2 separate regions of the Homo sapiens genome follow, and region 2 is linked to region 1. Evidence: fine-mapped expression QTL. Tissue or cell type: lymphoblastoid cells. Region 1 holds a variant in brackets; the other region holds the start of a gene. All regions are shown on one strand. Distances are between the middles of the regions.

Region 1 (11,457 bases):
AGGTTTATAGGTAGTAATTCTGTTATGCAGAAACTTTAGTCAAATAGACCATGCCATTGTTGATCATTGGGCTGTAACACAGGTGATGTCTTTGGCCTTAGGTAGAAGCTGTCCAACTCATAGCTGATGGAAAAGCTCCTCGTATACCCCAGCCAGAAGAAGGGGCAACATATGAAGGTATCCAGAAAAAGGAAAATGCTGAGGTATTTATATATCAACTCAATAACACGTCTCAGAGTTCATGGCCCTCTACCCTTCAGTAGTTCCCCACATACTATGATCTTGCCAAAAGGTAAGCCAGCTTGCCCTAGCCCTACCTGTTAGAGTAGACAGGTAGCCAGACATACGCAGGAGAGGGGAGTCCCCTAAAGAAAATAAAGTCTAGGAAGACTCGTGTCTGGAAGACCACTCAAAATTTGCATATTAATAGTATCTCTAATGCTGGAGTGGGTGGGCACTTAGTCAAATGTGCATAGAAAGGAGAGGAGATACTATGCAAACAAACAAACAAACAAGCAAATAAAAAATGCCCAGAAACGCCTCTTCAGTCTGCCCAACAATCCTTCGCTCTGCAGTTAAAATGTCAAAATATCACTAGCTACATGCTAATGAAAAGGGCAAAGGGGATATTCCTTAAAAAATCTGGCATGCTAGGTGCGCTGGGCACAGTGGCTCATGCCTGTAATCCCAGCACTTTGGGAGGCTGAGGGAGGAGGATCACTTGAGACCAGGCATTCGAGACCAGCCTGGCCAACACAGTGAGACCCCTGTCTCAAAAAACAAAAAACAAAAACCTGGAGCCATAAGTTCAGCTTAGGGCAGAGAAGGAAATTCCAAAAAAACACACAGATGCAGTAGGTATAGATTTGGCCACTATACAACCTCCCTGCAGTGACAATAGTAAACAACACAGGCATCAGGTAATATTCATATCCAACACCAATCCACACATACACACCAACTAATAATATGGAGGGTCCCATAAACCTGAGACAAAATCTAGGTGCGGACAAAGCAGAGAGCTAAGACAGACACAAACAAACTAGACAAAAAAAAAAAGAGGCAGAGACTTAACAGAGGTGGGAACTTCAAAAAAAAGTTCAACCTAATAAAAACCCAACATAAAACTCTCCAACAGCTACTGGCCTACTCCCCTCAACAGCCCGCTCTACTTCATCTTTACAAAGCATACTGTCCCTTTAAATAACCCTCTGCTTTTTATTTTCCTTTAATAAAGTCTCTTGTTTACTAAATCAGCCACCTGACAAAATACTTACTCCAAATAAAACTAAGAAGCAAAAATTCCTTTATTTCCCAATAACAAGTGTTTCTGCCTCTGATGACGAGAAGCGTTTTTATTGCCTTTGAGGTTCACAGCCATAGGAGGCTCAGCCTGTATTTTGTGCCTTCCTAGATTTCTTGGGACCAGTCTGCCGAAGTTTTACATAACTGGATTCGAGGTCATGATAAAGTCCCTGGAGCTTGGACAGAGATAAATGGACAGGTATGTTTTAGGGACCACTCCCCCCACCCCCCTCCCCGATTATTACCTTTGTAAGAGATATTACAGATAAATCTGGGCTTCCCATGGTTCTTCCTTGGTCATGAGGCAGGTCTGTGATTCACTCTCCCCTTTACTCAGCATGTATTAAGCATTTATTGTGCAGCAGACACTAAATCCAGCGCCTGATCTAAGGAGCCTGCAGTTTTATGGGGAGTGCAGAGAAGTGAATAAACATTCTCAGTGCAGTAAGATAAACGCTATCATGGAGGCTGAGACTCAGGCATGTTAGGAAAGGCTTCCTAGAAAAGCTCACTGCTTTGCTCGAGAAGAGTTAACCAGGTTGAGAGCAAGACAAGTAGGTGAAGCCCCAGAGATAAGAGACTCCAGCACCTGGTCAAGGACTTGCAAAAGGAGTTCAGTGAAGCCAGGGTCTGAACTGTGAGGACAGGCATGGGGAGAGCTGAGGCGGGAGAGGCGGGCAGGGCCTGAAGGGTCTTCTATCCATGGGTAATTGACTCAGCCCAGGCTCTCAGGTTTCACCTCTTCGGGGAGGTTTCCTGATCTCACATGCCCAGACTGGCAGGGTCTGATGGCCCATCTCTGGGTTCCAGCAACACTCTGCCTACCTCTGGCATCGCACATCATATATTGTGAGGGTCTCTTTATTCCCCCCAACACTAGACTGTGAACTCCTTAGGGGCAAGGGCTTCATGTGATTGTCTTGATAATCTCAGCAGTTAAGCAGGAGTCTGGGTACATACTAAGTGCCAATAAAAATCCATGGGCTCGATGGGTGACCAAGGGAGGGAGTTTAGTGTAATGGTTAAGAGTGCAGGATCTGAAGCCAGAATGCTTCTATGAAAATTTACTGTGTAACCTCGGGCAGGTTTCTTAACCACTGGGTGCCTTGGTTTCCTCAATGTAAAATGGGACTAATAATACTGCCTCCCTTAGGTTATGGGTAATTGTGAAGATTAAATGAGTTGGCCAGCCATGGTGGCTCACACCTGTAATCCCAGCACTTTGGGAGGCCGAGGTGGGAGGATTACCCAGGTCAGGAGTTCGAGATCAGCCTGGCCAACATGGCAAAACCCTGTCTCTACTAAAAATACAAAAAAAAAAAAAAAAAAAAAAAAAAAAAAAAAAAAAAAAGCTCGGTGTGGTGGCATGTGCCTGTAATCCCAGCTACTTGGGAGGCTAAGGCAGGAGAATCATTTGAACCCGGGAGGCAGAGGTTGCAGCGAGATTGCACCAGCCTGGGTGACAGAGCAAGACTCTGTCTCAAAAAAAAAAAAAAAAGAATTAATACATGTTAACTCATTTAAGTACTTAGCCCTGGGCCTAGAGTAAGTATTCAACAAACCATTATAGCATAATCATAATAGTGCTCCATAAATGATAGCTGATCATCCTAGAAGTGCAATAATAATGCAGTCAGCGTCAGTGTCTCTTGGTTACTCTCTGGATCCAATCCTTTTTCCATGAACTGACTCACAAAGCACCCTGTGCTTCTCATCACTTACCACCCTGCACTGTAATAGTCTGGTGACCACTGTGCATTGCCCATCATTGACGCCCACCCCCAACACCTCCCCACCCACCCAAACCCTACCTTCAGGCTATAAAGGCTGAGAGCTTTTTATCTCATTCACCTTTGTATCAATGCAAATATGTGATAAATGCATACTCATGTCACCTGGATGTGGGGCATTTTGGACTCTCCAGTGACATATTCACAGACTATTTCTTGCCTTGTGTCATTTCTTTCTTTCTTTCTTTTTTTTTTTCTTTGAGACAGAGTCTGGCTCTGTCGCCCAGGCTGGAGTGCAATGGCACAATCTCGGCTCACTGCAAGCTCCGCCTCCCGGGTTCACGCCATTCTCCTGCCTCAGCCTCCCGAGTAGCTGGGACTACAGGTGCCCGCCACTATGCCCAGCTAATTTTTTGTATTTTTAGTAGAGACGGGGTTTCACCGTGTTAGCCAAGATGGTCTCGATCTCCTGACCTCGTGATCTGCCTGCCTCTGCCTCCCAAAGTGCTGGGATTACAGGCGTGAGCCACTGTGCCCGGCCACCTTGTGTCATTTCTATGGATGTTTGAGACAGTTTCTCCCATTGTGGTGTCTCAATTTTATTACAGATGATAATATGAACTTCAGCGTTTTTGCAGAGAATGATGCTTATACATACCGCTATGAACAGCTTTTCTCCTGATTTTACAATCTGTGTTTGATCTCTTTACTAGATGGTCACTTTCTATGGCTCGACATTACTGAATAGCTCTGTGCCTCCTGGAGAACCACTGGAAATTAAAGGTGCCAAGAAGCCTGGTCTCGTTACCAAAAATGGACTTGTTCTTTTTGGTAACGATGGAAAAGCAGTGAGTGTTAAATATGGCTGCCTATGAAATAACCTTTTGATTTTCTTCTATAACCCAAGCTATTAAGGGAATAGCTTTCACTCCATTGCTGGCTGGGGAGGAGCTGGCTCTGAGTGCCCTGATGGAGATGAGGTGTCTCAAGATGGGCCCCACAGATCTGCATAGGCTGCCTTGTGTAAAGTGGAAAGAGGCTGGAATTCAGTGGGGAGATAAGGATGTGAATCCCTGCTTCCCACTCGCTGGTCTTGGGCAGGATGATTCTTCCCTTTGAGTCTGTTTTGCCATCTTTATAACAGAGAGGAGAATCTTGTCTGTCTGCCTTCCCAATGCCAGATTCTGGGAGGATCAAGTGAAATAGATGTGGCCCTCCTCAGATGCCCCTTGCCACTGATCCACCAGACAGGCACCACCTAAACTGCCTATGCTCAGGAGGGTTGGCCCTGGGCCTCAGTGTGCCCTTGCGAAGCTTCCCAATGAAGCGTGCAAAGGGAATTTGTAGCTTACAGATATTTTCCAGTTGCTGCAGGATAAATCGTTAAGACTGTAGGCCGCTAGTTCCAGGTTCTACTCCCAGCTCTTTTACTTACTGTCTGTGTGGCACTGAGCAAATTACTGAACCTCATTGAGCCTCCCTTTCTGCATCAGTAAAATGGGAATAATAATGGCATCCGCCTCCACTGGCTTTTATGAAATTAGGTAAGATCCTTCAGCACATGCATGCATTCTTTTTTTTAGTATATGTGCTGCTGAAGCAAGCACTTATGCATGCATTCTTGAGCATGGTACAGGGCAAGTGCTCAGAGGCAGCAGCTGCAGAGTTGCAGCAGCACTGGTGGTGTCTGTTATTTTCATAATAGATTCTAATTCAAATACCTACGTCCAAGTGTCAAATTTTCCAGGACTTATTTTCCATTTTGAGATGTACCTATCCCTGGACCTCACTTTTTCCTTTCTGCTGCCATTATTCAAGTGCCATTTCAGCCCTTTTACACATAATGGTGAATGCTTTTAATCTGTATTTTTCCAAATAAACTTGCCCTTATATGCATATAATCTATAGGACTCCTCCCACCAGCCTCACTTTTGTATTGTCTCAATCCTCAATTTTTATGCTTGTTTTGTTGCTATTTTGTAGCTGACGGTGAGAAATCTGCAGTTTGAAGATGGAAAAATGATCCCTGCCTCTCAGTACTTTTCAACGGGTGAGACGTCAGTGGTAGAACTGACAGCTGAAGAGGTGAAAGTGGCAGAGACCATCAAGGTGAACACATGATGACTTAAATCTTACTGTTACCTTGGAAAACTGAAGCATGTTCGTAACTGGTACCATCAGTCCTCAAAGTAGTGGGATCAGAACTTTATTTCCTCTTTTTTTGTATTAGCTGCAAGAGGAAATCAACCTCCAAATTCATATGCTTAAACACAGTATATACAAACTGATTTTTCACATAAGTCATCCAAGGCAGTTCCAGGTTGGCACGGGGGTTAGGGGTGAAGTCATTCAGGAACCCAGTTTCTGTTATTTTCAAGGTCTCCCTGGGGGGCGTCTCTATTCCAGACAGCCAGAAGGGCAAAGGAGCATGTAGAATGGCGTGGAGGAGGTTTACATGGGCTAGGACTGGGGTGGTGCAGGTCACTTCCACTCCTGTTCATTGGTTGCATCTAACTTGGAGAGGCGCTGAGAAATGTGATCCAGCTGTATGTACAGCTGAGTGTACAAGATGAAGAGGGAATTGGTTTGGTGAAGAGCTAGCCCAGTCTCTGCCACATTGTTCTACGTGGCACTTCCCTCATAAGAGTTTCCTTTTTGTGTAGGTCATCTGGGCTGGAATTTTAAGCAATGTCCCCATTATTGAAGACTCAACAGACTTCTTTAAATCTGGAGCAAGCTCAATGGATGTTGCCAGGTAAAACCACGCCCTTATTGACTCACTAGGGATTCCCTCACTAGAGATTTTGACTTTGGCTTTGACAGTGAAATCCACACACATCCTTTGTTCTGGATGTGATTACCTTATCATACCTATCTATGACTCATCTTTTTTTTTTTTTTTTTTTTTCCTGAGATGGAGTTTCACTCTTGTTGCCCAGGCTGGAGTGCAATGGTGCGATCTCGGCTCACCGCAACCTCCGCCTCCCAGGTTCAAGTGATTCTCCTGCCTCGGCCTCCCGAGTAGCTGGGATTACAGGCATGCGCCACCACGCCCAGCTAATTTTGTATTTTTAGTAGAGATGGGGTTTCTCCATGTTGGTTAGGCTGGTCTCGAACTCCTGGCCTCAGCTGATCCGCTTGCCTCGGCCTCCCAAAGTGCTGGGATTATAGGTGTGAGCCACCACGCTCGGCCAACACATCTTTATTCTTCATCTTTTTTTGCTATTGTTTCCATGGTCAAGCAGATATATCCGTTTA[G/T]TTCTCTTTGTTGCTAACCAGAAGTTGTTTTCATATCTTCCGTATACCTAAAAAAGCAACCCTTAGAATTGTTTGCATCTTTTAAAAATTTGTCCTTCCAGTTTCTTAGCTAATTTTCCTCCAATATGACATCAGAATTGAGAAGCTCTGGGTGAGAATGCTAACAGTGAATTTCCTACGCAGCCTGATCCAGAATATTATCTGAATAATATCTGACACCTGATATTAATAATATTACCAGAATAATATCTGATACCTGATATTAATTATGCTTTCCCCCAAATCTTTTTTCTCCTACCCTCGCCCCCCCCATAAATTACCTAGTAAGACAGATCTAGAATGAGGGTTATCAGGCTACTTGCAAGGACAAGTGTAATCACCCAATATCAGAATTTCTCCACAGAGGTTTAGAGCAAGTTGAAAGGGCTGGAGTCCCAGAAAGCCTCTATCGCAAGGAAACTGGACCAGGATCCTACTGGTGCAGCATCTTTCAGAGGTGTTTTTCTTCGAGTAACTGGGATAACAAGACAGCTGGAGCTCACCAGGGACTGTGCAGTCCCTTGATGGTGGGTACAGAGAATAGAAGCTAAGAGGATTTGATCCTAGGCCACATTGTGGCCATACACTAATTAAACAAGGCAAAAATGTTCCTCCTCTTGATAAAATCCTTCATATTGACAAAGCAACGTTCCTGATGAATATTCTATCTACTCACTCATTTACTTAACAACACTGACTGAACACTTACTACATGTCAGGAACAGTTTTAGCACTGGGGATACAGTGTAAACTAGACAACGTCCCCTTTATTCATGGAGGTTTTATTCCAGAAATCAAAAACAATCATTTCAAGAGCACATAGTGTTTTCAAAAGTCAAGAGTTTCGGCTCCTCAAATTATAGATTTCTCAGCTGTGATTCATGAGTTCCCAGAAACTTCTAATTGGCTTAACTAAATATTTCAATACTACATTATGATGATTATTATTACAGATAGGGCCTCACTCTGTCGCCTAGGCTGGAGTGCAGTGGTGTGATCACAGCTCACTTGCACTAGCAGCCTTGCACTCCTGGGATAGCCATCCTTTCATCTCATCCTCCCTACTAGTTGGGATTACAGGCATGAGTCATCACACCTGGTACATCACACACAGTACTGTATTATTATTATTATTATTATTATTATTATTATTATTATTATTATTATTATTTTGAGACAGAGTCTCGCTCTGTCGCCAGGCTGGAGTGCAGTGGCGCAATCTTGGCTCACTGCAACCTCCGTCTCCCAGGTTCAAGCGATTCTCCTGCCTCAGCTTCCCAAGTAGCTGGGATTATAAGCAAATGCCACCACGCCCAGCTAATTTTTGTATTTTTAGGAGAGACGGGGTTTCACCATGTTGGCCAGGGTGGTCTCGATCTCCTGACCTCGTGATCCACCCGCCTCGGCCTCCCAAAGTGTTGGGATTACAGGTGTGAGCCACCGCACCCGGCCAGTACTGTATTATTAATACTTTTTTTTTTGCTAGCAAGATACTCCTGCAGGAATTACTCATTTTCTGTTTGAGTGTCTGGCTTACCATAATCATCTGATATTATTATCTTGATTACAAAGGTATCATCTCTTTTAGAGAATAAATGATTGAACCACAACCATGGTGGACTTTCTACACTGTACCTCGTACACCACTGCTATTCAAGAAATGTCAGATAACAGCTGTAATTTGACAAACTAACAGTGGAAATCAAAGGATTGGAAAGGACTTCAAAAGTTATACTGACCTACTGCATATGGTTCTAGCTAGTACCTATGTTAACTACGTAATACAAACAAATGTCCATCTTATACTTGTAATTTAGAGAAAATAGTCTACAATATGACATTCATCTCTCATAATCTTTACAGTTAGGAAAGTGTCTTTGTTTCTTATTCCCTGAGTATATATGAAAGGAAAGGAGTTGACTTTATATGATCCTTGCTACCTTGCTTATAAGTAATTAAAATATTTTTGCCTTGATTGCTTTTATTTTTAGTCATGGATAAAGTTTTAAAAAACTGCCACTGTCCTTCAAGATATATTTTTAATTTCTTGCCCCTAGTCTTATCAATTTCTCTGATGAGTATCACAGAAGATCTCATAGGATATAAATAGGCATGTGATGTAAGTCTTACCTCAAAACAACTTGACAAGTGCAAATAACACAATCTTCCTAACCCCTTTTAAAAATCTAAGTAACGCGAAGCTGGTTTTTACTTTAAGGCTGGTTGAAGAGATCAGACAGAAATGTGGTGGGCTTCAGTTGCAGAATGAAGATGTCTATATGGCCACCAAGTTTGAAGGCTTTATCCAAAAGGTCGTGAGGAAACTGAGAGGAGAAGATCAAGAGGTGGAGCTGGTTGTAGATTATGTAAGCTTTTCCTTGATGTTGCAACCCTAAATCAGTGAGATCCATACACTATAAAAGACTGCTGTGCCTGTTGCCCATTTGTTTTTATATTTATGACCTTTAAAAAACAACAGCTTTACTGAGATCTAATTCAGATGGCATAAAATTCCCCTTTAAAATGTGCATTTTGGGTAGTTTTTAATATATTCACAGGGTTGTGCAATTATTATGCCATCCAATTTTGGAACATTTTCATCATCCCAAAAAGAAGCCCTGTACCCATTGGCAGTCATTCTTTACTCTTCCAGGACTACCTCATACAAAAAATGTTCCAAAATTGGATAGCATGATAGTTCCTAGAAAATGCTAACCTCTTTTCTGTCTATGGATTTGCCTATTTTAGAGATTTCATATAAATAGAATCATACAACATGTGGCTTTTTGTTTCTGGCTTCTTTCTCTTAGCATAATGTGTCCAACGTTCATCCATGTTGTATCATCATTTCATCCCTTTTTTTGGCCAAGTAATATTCTATTGTATAAGTATACCACAGTTTGTTTACCCATTCATCAGTTGATGTACATTTGGGTTGTTTCTACCTTTTGGCTATTATGAATAATGCTATGAAAATTCATATATAAGTTTTTGCATGAACATATGTTTTCAAGTCTCTTGGGTATGTACCTAAGAGTGGAATTGATGAGTCATATGGTAACTCTATGTTTAACTTTTTTGAGTAACTGCCAAACTGTTTTCCGAAGTGGCTACACCATTATGTAATCCCACCAATGTATGAGGGTTTCAACTTCTCCATATCCTCGCCAATATTTGCTCTCATCTGTCTTTTCTCTTTTAGTTGTCCTAGTGGGTGTAAAGTGGGATCTCATTGTGGTTTTCATTTGTATTCCCTAATGACTACTGATGTTGAGCATCTTCTCATATACTTATTGGGCATTTGTATTTCTTCTTTGGAGAAATGTCTGTTCTTTCAAATCCTTAGCTCATTTTAAAACTGGCTTGTCTTTTTATTGCTGAGTCTTAAGCGTCCTTCGTATATTTTCGATACTAGATCCTTATCAGATGTAAGATTTGCAAATATTTTCTCTCATTCTGTAGATTTGCTGAAAACTTTGAGTGTCCTTTGACACACAACAGGTTTTAATTTTGATGAAGTCTAATTTATCTATGTTCTTTTGCCACTTGTGCTTTCTTGTGTCTTGTCTGACACCTTTTTATTCCTCAATTTCTCCCTCACTGCTTTCTTTTATGTTAAATATGTCTAGTATGCCTTTTTAATCCCTTATTTTTAATTTAACTGTATTTTTAAGCTATTTTCTTAGTGGTTGCCTTGAGGATTATAATTAACATTTTTGCTTAAAATGATCTAGTTCAGATGAACACCAACTTAATAGTATAGGAAAGCTTTGCTGTAACATAGTTGTTGCATACTCCCCTAATTTGTGCCATTATTGTCATATGAATTATGTCTTTATACATCATGAGCCCACCAACAGTTTTATAATTATTGCTTTATGAAGTTGTATTTTTAATGAGATAGAGTTAAAAAATATATTTATACCAATGTTTATATTTACCTGTGTAGTTACCTTTACCAGTACTCTTTATTTCTTCATGTGTTTTCAAGTTAATTGTCTGGTGTTCTTTCATTTCAACTTGAAGGATTCTTCTCAGTACTTTTTGTAGGCCAGGTATGCTAGCAATCAATTTTCTGTTTTTGTTCACTTGGGAATGTTTTAATTTCTCCTTCATTTCTGAAGGATATTTTTGTTGGGTATAGAATTTTTGGACGGTATTTTTCTTTTATCATTTTAAGTATTTCATCGTATTGCCTTCTGGCCTTCATGGTTTCTGATAAGTCAACTGGTAATTTTATTAAGGACTCTTTTGTATGATGAGTTCCTTCTCTCTTGCTGCTTTTGAGATTTTCTCTTTGTCTTTTGATAATTTGTTATGATGTGTCTAGGTGTGGAGCCTTTGAATTTTCCCATTAGAATTTGTTGAGCTTCTTGGATTGTGCATTCTTGAAATGTGCAAATTAATGTTTTTCATCAAATTTAGGAAATTTTCAGCTATTCTTTCTTCAAATATTTTTCCTTTCCCTTCTCATTCTCCTCTCCTTCTGGGATTCCTTTTATGCATATGTTGGTATAGTTGATGGTATCCCATAAGTCTCTGAGGCTCTGTTCATTTTTCTTTATTCTTATTCCTTCCTGTTGTTCAGGCTTTTTTCACCTTCTTGAATTTGCTATTGGGTCCCTCCAGTGATTTTTTAATTTCAGTTATTGCACTTTTCAACTTAAGCATTTTTATTTGGTTCTTTTTAAAATAATTTTTATCTCTTCATTGATATTCTCTGTTTGGCAAGACATTATTCTCTTTCCTTTAATTCTTTAGACATGGTTTCCTTTAGTTCATTGAACATATTTACAAAAGCTTATTGAAAATCTTTCTTTAGCAAATCCAATGTCTAGGCTTCTCTAGGGATGGTTTCTATTAGCTGCTTTTTTTTCACCTGTTTATAGGCCATACTTTCCTGTTTCTCTGCACGTCTTGTAATCTTTTGTTGAAAGGTGGTCATTTAAAATAATAGAATGTGGTAACTCCAGAAAGCAGACCTTCTCCCCATCTCCCTTCACAACATTTGTTGCTGTTGCTGCTGCTGCTTTTTGTTGTTGTTGTTCAATGACTTCCTTGACAATTCTGTAAAGTCTTTATTTTTTATTGTTTGCCACTACTGAAGTCTCTGTTCAGTTACTTT
Region 2 (9,864 bases), 47 kb before region 1:
ATTTTATAATCCTATCTAGAAGAGGCCCTTAAAGCCCAACAGCAAGTCTTAAAAAAATCAACAAGTATTACTTAATGGCGAGAAAGCCCAACAGCATCTGTTTAAAAAATCAACATGTATTACTTAATGCCAAGTGACAGATATATGAAACTTATTACCCTCAGAGATAGTACAGGTTGAGAATGACAGTTTCCTAGTAGAGTTCCTATAACTTACATACAATGATTCTCACAGAAGTGTTGAGGAACAAAAAGAGACAATTACAAATTTGGGGGGGGATGATTTTTAAAGTAAGACTAAGTCTATCCAGCCTGCAAGAAAAGAAGTCAAAGGAAAGTAATTTCAGTTTACAAATATATAAAGTATTTGTGAGGCAGTTCAGGGTATTGGATAAGGGCACAGGCTCTGGAGTCAAGCTGCCTGATATTCATTATTTAACTAAATGTGTCACTTACTTGACTAAGTTACTTAACTTTTCTATGCCTTAGTTTTCTCATTTACAAATGGAGATGACATTGTATCTACTTTATAGGATTGTGGTGGGAATTAAAAGTCAATACTTGTCCTATAATGCAATACTAAAAAGATAACCCAATTTAAAAATGGGCAAAGGATGTGAACAGACATTTCTCCAAAGAAAACAGACACATGGCCATAAGCACATGAAAAGATGCTCAACATTATTAGCCATCAGAAATGCAAATCAAAGCCACAATGAGCTTTCACATTCACTAGGAAGAATATAATCAAGACAATAAAGGCTGGCAAGGATGTAGAGAAACTGGAACCCTCATGCAGTGCTGGTAGTAATGTAAAATGGTATAGCCATATTGGAAAACATTCTGGCAGTTCCTCAAAAAGTTAAACATAGTTACCACATAACCCAGGATTTCCACTCCCATATATACATATGTATAAAATATACACACAATGTACACACATTTTATATACAATATACTTATATATGTCTACACAAAATCATGTGCCCAAATGCTCATAGCAGCCAAATAGTAGAAAAATCCAATGTCTATCAACTGATGAATGGATAAATAAAATGTGGTTATCCATTCCTTACAATGGAATATTATTCAGCAACAGCAAAAAAAGAAAGTACTAAAAACATGTGACAACATAGATGAGCCTTGAAAACATAAGTTAAAGAAGCCAGCAACAAAGGAGCACATATCGTATGATTTCATTTATATGAAGTGTACAGAGGAGACAAACACATAGAGATAAAAAGTAGATTGACTGGTGGTTGCCTAGGGCAGGTATGCCATGGCATGAACTGGGGGTTGATTATCACACGGTACATGGTTTCTTTTTTGGGGGCTGAGAACGTTCTAACATTGACTGTTGTGATGGTTGTACAACTCAGTGAATATGCTAAAAACAACTGAATTATACAATTTAAATGAGTGAATTGTATGATATATGAATTATATCTCAAGAAAGCTGTTATAAAAACAAGTCAGTGTGTGACTTAGGACAGTGTGTAATACACAAGTGCTCAATAAAATGTAAATTATTTTTCAAGTGGTAACAAACTAATTTTAAAGATAAAAGAAATATTTCAAAATGGAAAGAGTAATGTATTTTATACATTAAAAAATTACTCACACATTAACATCTATATAGCATGAGAGAACTTTTCAGAAATGGTGAAAATATTCTCTATCTTAATTGGGATATGAGTTACAAGTGTTTGGCAAAATTAAGAGTATCTGCATTTCACTCTATGTAAAATAGTCTCAATCAAGAAAAAACAAAGCCTGAATATTCTATCCAGCCCTCATTTTCTTAATAATGAAAATCAAAGGCAAGCTCAAAGACTTGGAGTTTGTGTCATTCTTTGACACTAAAGGCTGTGTGTTTGTCATTCTTAAACAGAAAACACACACATTTAAAAAACATCTGCATGGCTTAGAGAAAAGGAAATTAACAATTTTCTCCAACTTTCATTTTGTTCTTAGATTTCAAATAAAAATACTTTTTCCATTTTAAAAAATTATGTTTTCAGGATATAGTATGTCCAGAAAATATATACATATATTTTTAAAAAATCAAATCAAACCTTTAATGCTATAGGATCAAGATTGAAATCCCAAACATCTCCAATTGAGTCATCCAGAGCGTCCTCAATTCTTCTCAGTTGAGAGGTATACTCCTCAAGAAATTTCCCATAATTCTTAAGTTGGACTTCGGCATGAATTTCTAAGTTTAAATTTTAAAACAGTATGTGATAAGTGCAAGTAATGAATTGCAGGACATTTACTTCAAATAACCTCAAAAGTCACGCAAAGCACTGTTAATTATTACTCTGGAATGTCTGGACTTCCTGAAAATAAAGTTCCAAAGTTAAACAACAATTCAGCTTTCAATCTTCTCTATACACGAAATAATTTTAAAAGCAGTAGATGTTACCATATATAAAGTTACTACCTTAAAACCCTAACATATTATGAAAAAGCCACTAGCCCATCTACCCCCATAATAGAGGGCTTTGAACCAATCTGAAAAGTGCCTTAAACAATTCAATGTCCTGATTCTATCTTTTAGTCATGAACAACTCTTTTGCAAAAACAAATATTCATGATCTGAAGGTGAAAAAAACAGTCTGTCACAGAAGTAACACTTAAAAATGTAGTTTTTAATTCTATACACACTAATGTTTAATAATACACCTAAATATTTTTAAATGGAGGTTTTATACCTGCTTGAGCATATTATTTCTATAATGTCTAAAATTTAACCAAGATATTTGTTAAATTATTTAACTGTCATAATCAAGTTGGAAAAACCAGCAAAGAACACTGCTTGACTACAGAATACTATGCTGTTCTTCACAGAATTAACACATTCATAGGTAACTTTAAGGAATCATTGGAATAAGCTGGATTTTAAAATATGCCTATTCGTCAAAGTATTTCACGTTACACATAAAAATTCATTACTTGTTCCCAAAGGTAACAAATTCAACTCCAACTCAGTTTCTTTTATTGATATGAATAACTTTATTCAACCTTTGTCTTCTAAAAAAGGTAAAAATTTGCTCTCCTCAAATTAGCAATGTGAAGCAAGTAAGAGAAAGTGTGTTCTGACTCATGCTGTATTAAAGTATAAAGACCTAGCCCCCACTCTCCTTTATTCTTCAACCACATAAAGTTTTAAATCCGGTGAATCCATTTAGTTCATTAAGGTTTCTGTCTTATTATAGCATTAATCTAGGCAATTTTGGAAAACAATTAGTCTAGATATGATTCACAGACCAAAAATTAATGAACGCCAAGCACAGGGAGGTGTTCTCTTCCCTACAGCTTACATATAAGACTGCCCAGATTCTCAGAACCCCAAATAGTTGTCTTATTCTCAACTACACAGGAAATGACCAGTCAAAGCTGCATTTGACCAGCAAATGACTTCTTAAAGACAATGCTAGGCCGGGCATGGTGGCTCACCCCAACACTTTAGGAGGCCAAGGCCGGTGGGTCGCTTGAGACCAGGAGTTCAACATGGCAAAACCTTGTCTCTATCCCAATTTAAAAAGAAAAAATCAGCCAGCTACTAAGGAGGCTGAGGTAGGAAGATCACCTGAGCTCAGCTGGTCGAGGCTGCAGTGAGCCGTGGCGATGCCACGGCACTGGGCGACAGAGTGAGACCTTGTCTCGAAAAAAAAAAAAAAAAAAAAAGACAATGCTAGAGAAACACCACGCCAATAAATCACTCCTTTAGTATGTTCAGGGATTCACAAACAGGAAACAGAAAACCTAAAATAACATTAAAAGTTCCTTGCTGACAATAAACGGTTGTAAAATTGGTGAAAGTTAAAATAACAAAAGTTGAGATAAGAACTACATGGTAATTTTTTAAGAGTAAAAATTCCAAAAACCTACTTAACATGCTCATCTTTGTCAACAGACTGCACTCCTTGTTTTATCTTTTTATCCCTAATATCTAGCACAGCCACTGGTTGTAGAAAATATCTGTTGAGTGAATCAGACCATTCTACTCCAGGCTGAACCATTTTCAAACTCAATTAACATAACTCTATTCCAATTTTTTTTGAAGATACCAGTTCGTCATCTTTGTCCATAAAACATATATGACAAGGTACAGTTCACTTTATAACAATACAGAATCCCCTCCACAAAAAAAAATTAAAAGATTTTGTCATTATCTCCAAGGTTAATTTTTATGCTGCATAAGAGCTAATACCTTATTATCACCCAGGCTAGAGTGCAATGGCGCGATCTCGGCTCACTGCAACCTCCGCCTGCCGGGTTCAAGCGATTCTCCTGCCTCAGCCTCCCAAGTAGCTGGAATTACAGGCGCTCGCCACCAAGCCCAGCTATTTATTTTTTAGTAGAGACGGGGTTTCACCATGTTAGCCAGGCTGGTCTTGAACTCCTGACCTCAGGAATGTTTTGTGAAAAACTGCAACCCATCCTGGATGTAGCTCACTCTTCTCTGAGAGACTTGTAAAACCTAATTCATCTAACATTGTAGGCATTAGTCTCTCTTCGTAAATCAAGCAAAATTCATCCGGAATTTTTAAAAGCAACGTTCCACCTTTTGGGAAAACTATGAGGGAAAAAAAAAATCACAAACAGCATGCTCCAATCTCTCTTAGATCACTTACACAGATTACTATGACCAAAGATAAGAAGCAGATTGCCAACTTGTATTTATTTCAAGTAGAGTTTCACTACAATTAATTTGGCCTCAATATTTTACTGAAAGAAACACAATTTGTTTATTTCGGGATAGACTTCTAAGTTAAAATCAGACAATTCGATCTTGTGAAGCAAAATTTGAAGATTTGCTGTAATTTTTGAAGCCTTTATAACTGCGATGGAAACTGCAGAACATCACTGAAAAATATCACTTAGCATAAATAAAAGGCCTGGAAAATGATAAAATGACATTCACGTGTTTATTTTCGCAGGGTGAAAAGTTCTTTTTTCGCTCCCTTCTACGGTTATAGCAACGCGATGGGAAAGACACCCAAACTTGCAAAAGTTGATTTGGGAGGAAAAGAAGAAAAACAGGAAACCGAAACAGGAACCCAGACATCAGCGTCCTCCAGAGCTGAACGCTCAGAATCTGGCGAAATCCCCAAGAGGCCAGAGACAGAAGCAGCCTGGGATCCCGGGGCCGCTGGGCCTCCCGGGCGCGCCCCGCCCAAGCCCCGGGGCAGCTGAAGGGGGACGCCGCTCCCCGCGGGGCACCGCAGGCTCCCCAGGAGAGTCTCCGCCTCACACGCCGAGCCCTGAACGGGCAGCCTGACCCGCCGTGGCTGGGACCCCAACCCCGAAAGTAACGCTGGAGAGCGCGTCCCTCGCACACCCCAAGGGCTCTGAAGTGTCCCGCACCAGACGGCTGCGCAGCCGTCCCTCTCGCAGGAGCGCTGCCCAGCCCAGAACAGCGGCGGGCCGAAGGAGCGTCCACCCGCAGCCCTCGCCCTGCAGCTCCCTTACTCTGCGAGCCGTCGTCAACGCGGTCAAACTCCCAGTCCGGGGACAGAGTCTCCACCGCCATCACCCCGGCGCCTCCCACAGACACAGCCCCAACCAGCCCGTGCGGCGACGACGGCCTCACCCCAGCTACTGTCACAGCACGTGACTTCCGGCCCCGGCCCCGCCTCCGCTCGCGAGGGCCGGCCGGGCTCGTTGCCCCTGCGACCGCGGGGGCCCCTGGGAAAGCGAGTCCTCCGCCGTGGCCGAAGGCGGCCGCCATGGCGCCGGCAGTGCCAGCGGGCGTCTTGCGACCCGGCTCGGGCTTCGCCACCATTCACTGTGCTTCTCAAGCCACTTCGGCACTCTAATTTCGCCCTGCTCTCTCTAGACGATTTTTAATACCTGGGAAAGTTACTCCCCAGTCTAACCTAAAAAGGTAGAATTGATGGGGTGGGGAATTAACAGGAAGGCATGATCCTCGAGGATAACGCTGACCAGGCGCTTCTTCCAACAAGCCTGTTTCCCTCTCTGTCGCCACCGTAGGAGTTCCTACAGCTCTCCCGCACATTCTGTACGGATTGTTTTTTAGTCAAGACGTTCTGTGCGAGAGGAGAAGTTACTTTATGAACACCCTAACAGGGGATCTTACGACCTCTTCCCCGCTCTCCACTCAGTCCTTTTAAAAACGCGAGGCAGGATGAAGAACGCTATTGAAGTACATTCTAAAATGATCCCACCTGCAATTTGGATTTTTGGAGAATCGGGATCGGTGTAAAATTCTACATGCATACACGTATTTGCACAAGAATATTTATAGCAACGTGGTTTTTAATAGGAAACTATCTAAATGTTCATTACAAGTGAATTACATAAAGCTCAATACATCCATACTACGAATCACTGAAGAGCTGCTAAAATAGATGAAATATATTTATAATGGCATGAACAACCGACACAAGACAGTTGCAGAGTAATGTGTATTTGTGATTACATTTATGTTTTTAAGTTATACAAACGCGTATGTGCCTACGTGTATGTAAATTCATAGGAAGACAAATCAGAGGACGGTGGTTACCTGGGGAAAAGCATGTGTTGGTGAGTAACAGGATTTTCAAGTTTTGATGTGTCTACTTATGTGTTTTGAATCCTTAACAATGAGAATTTATTAGGGTTTTACTCTTGTAATCTTAAAAAGTACCGAAAAGAACTAATCAATGTAGGCAAAAGGTCTATTGAAGAGCATTCTTCTGAGGTCATTGGATCTGCCCTGAGTTAAATGTTTATTGAGTGCCCACTGGGTACCAGGCACCAGGCTAGATGCAGAAACTATAAAACATGTAAGAAAATTGCTTTCTGACCCTATGGCAGACTTAGTGGGCATTTCAGAAAGAAAAAAAAAATCTTGAAAAGAACAGGCATCCTTAGGGTCTAATGGCTGACAAACTTTTTTCCTGTACTTTCTGTGTGACCATGAGTTTGACTTTCCTGGATTCTTAACATTTGCATTAAATCACTGTAATTAATCTCCCAGCAGCTCATTGTGATAAATTGAACTTACAAGTCAGAAAAATTTGAGTCTATAAATACACTAATCTATTAAAGTTAATAGATTAGTAGCAAGAGGCAGTGTCATGTAATAATTGAAAGCACAGTTTTGACTGCCAAATTGCCTAGGTCCAAATCCTGGCTCTGCCACTTACTAACCATGTGATCTTGGGTCACGTAATTTAACCTCTGCCTCAATTTCCTCATCTATAAAATGAAAATAAAATAAAACTAGTAAACACCTTGTGGGATTCTTACGAGGACTAAATTAGTTAATACATATAAGGTACATAGAACAATACCAACCACATACTGTACCAGGTTGCTATTATGAATCAATATAGATTTATCTTAAAAAGATCTCAGAAGTCCCAGATCTCACAAGTCCCAGTGTGGTGGCTCATGCCTGTAATCCCAGTACTTTGGGAGGCCAAGGTGGGTGGATCACTTGAGGTCAGGAGTTTGAGACCAGCCTGGGCAACGTGGTGAAACCCTGTCCCTACTAAAAATATAAAAATTAGATGGGCATGGTGGTGCCTGCCTATAGTCCCAGCTACTCTGGAGGCTGAGGCAGGAAAGTCGTCTGAGCCACTACACTCCAGCCTGGGCAACAGAGCAAGACTCCATCTCAAAAAAAAAAAAAAAACTCAGGGATTTTCTGTCTTGATCTTAAATATGTTTAAATCAAATTTCACAGCCTATAATTTCAAATTTTGTTAGAGAATTACAAATTAGATACCAAATAGAAAAGCACATTCACTAAATGAAAAGTGCTATCTGAAAGTTATTTATAAAAATGTCCTATTGTTCTTAGACGTAGTCTGCAGAAGGCAAATCATTATTTTAAGTAATCACATATTCTTCATTCTACTACTCTTCATTCACACGGTACTTTCTGAAAAGCAAGCTTGGAAATAGAAGGAGAAACTTTTCATATGGGCAATATTGTGCTATTCTGAGAGCTTCTGTGAACTTTAGAACAGCTGCCTACAGAAGGTGCCTGCCTGCCAGTTCCTAGGAATCTGTGCCTTTAACTTACAGCCCCATATACCCACACCTTAAGTTCTAGTTTATTCCATACCAAAATATTTTACATATATGTTATATAGCTAAGTTCTTGGTGAATTTGTTTATTAACTTACATTAAAAGTCTTCTTCCAACTGCTATTCACCCCAGCAATCCCATTACTGGATTTTTACCCAGAGAAATGTAAATCATTATACCATGAAGATACATGCATGGGAATGTATCTTCCCATTGCAGCACTATTCACAATAGCAAAAACATGGAGTCAACCTAAATGCTCCTGAATGACAGATTGGATTTTTAAAATGTGGTACATATATACCATGGAATACTATGCAGCCAAGAAAAAGAACGAGATCATAGCTTTTGCAGGAACATGGATGGAGCTGGGGCTGTTATCCTTGGCAAACTTAGCACAGGAACAGAAAACCAAATACCACATGTTCTCATTTATAAGTGGGAGCTAAATGAGGAAAGCTCATTAACACAAAGAAGGAAACAACAGACACTGGAGGCTAACTGAGAGTGGAGGGTGGGAGTGGAGAGAGGAGCAGAAAAGATAACTATTGGGTACAGGGCTTAATACCTGGGTGATGAAATAATCTGTACCACAAACCCCCGTGACATGAGTTTACCTATGTAACAAACCTTTACATGTACCCCTAAACCTAAAATAAAAGTTTAAAATAAATAAATACAATCTAAAATAAATAAAATCTTCTTCCTACAATAGAAATTCTATGGCAATAACTCACTAGAGACATTTCACTTAGTAGTTTGTCACAGAATCCTGCGTGTATCTGTTTAAAAAATTCCTAATATGTTAATTCATGTATTTATTTACAAAGTAATCCCTCACTTGAACAACCACTATAGATGTGTGACAGGTCTTCTCTCTCCACTGTCCACATTCTCTGTGTGAAGCTTCTCGAAACCTATCTGATCAGGTCATGCCCTTTTAGATCCTTCCCATTGCCTATGGTATGGAATTTATGCTTCATAGCATGTAACTCAAGGCTTCTTCCAATCTGCCCTTTTATTTAAGGGATCCTAAAATCCTTGTACTGGTTGGTTATCAGTGATTGTGGAATCATATAGATTACCACTATATGTATTTTTAGTAGAGACGGGGTTTTGCCATGTTGGTCAGGCTGGTCTTGAACTCCTGACCTCAGGTGATCCGCCCACCTCGGCCACCCAAAATGTTGGGATTACAGGAGTGAGCCACTGCGCCCAGCCTAGATTACCGTTATATCTAATTCCCTGAATTCCTGGTTGGACCAAGTGCTTCGGCCCTGTGCTTCCATGGTATTTACCACTTCAAAGTTATCTATTGACATAATTATCTTCACTATTAAGTTATGTATTAGTTTCCTATTGCTGCTGTAGCAAATTGTCACCAACTTAGTGGTTAAAAGAGTACAAATTTATTATCTTCTAGTTCTAGAGGTCAGAATGCCAAAATCAGTCTCACTGGGCTAAAGTAAAGGTGTTAGTAGGGCTGATTCCTCTTGGACACTAAGAATCTATTTCTTTGCCTTTCTCATCTTCTGTGCATTACTTGAACCTCTTGTTTCTCCCATCACATTTCCTACTATTGACTGATTCACCTGCCTTCCTCTTATAATGACCCTTGTGATTACATCAAGCTCACACAGATAATCCAGGATAATCTCCTTATCTCAAAAATCCTTACCTTAATCATATCTGCAAAGTCCTTTTAAACATGTAAAGTAACATATTCACAGGGTGTAGGGATTAGGACATGAACATCTTTGGGCACCTGTTATTCAGCCTAATACAGACCATCAGCTCTTTGGTATCAGGGACCATGAT

Which allele goes with the higher level. Alleles are on the strand shown, and positions count from the first base shown. SD is a standard deviation of normalised expression in the study named.
With allele G in place of T in region 1, the expression in lymphoblastoid cells of the gene that starts at base 5,608 in region 2 is lower (small effect, 0.34 SD a copy in GEUVADIS).

What was found. PIP is the estimated chance that this variant, and not a neighbour inherited with it, causes the effect.
Region 2: it holds the start of WASHC4, and the variant in region 1 is fine-mapped to the expression of WASHC4 in lymphoblastoid cells (GEUVADIS, PIP 0.95).

What each region holds. Positions count from the first base shown.
Region 1 is chr12:105,055,314-105,066,770 of GRCh38, reverse strand. ALDH1L2 (aldehyde dehydrogenase 1 family member L2) reads left to right here. Exons shown (of 23, transcript NM_001034173.4): 5 at 102-203; 6 at 1,415-1,504; 7 at 3,749-3,883; 8 at 5,019-5,144; 9 at 5,699-5,790; 10 at 8,551-8,698. Among named protein-coding and RNA genes, the nearest start is that of ALDH1L2, 23 kb to the left of the region's middle. RefSeq lists an enhancer at 5,075-6,274. The variant G/T (reference allele first, on the strand shown) is at 6,294.
Region 2 is chr12:105,103,475-105,113,338 of GRCh38, reverse strand. WASHC4 (WASH complex subunit 4) reads right to left here and starts at 5,608. Exons shown (of 33, transcript NM_015275.3): 1 at 5,478-5,608; 2 at 2,075-2,214. The coding sequence starts at 5,538. It overlaps LOC414300 (a long non-coding RNA gene), which reads left to right and starts at 5,697. Exons shown (of 2, transcript NR_121211.1): 1 at 5,697-6,551. RefSeq lists enhancers at 3,342-3,501, 5,340-5,499 and silencers at 5,060-5,309, 5,520-5,799.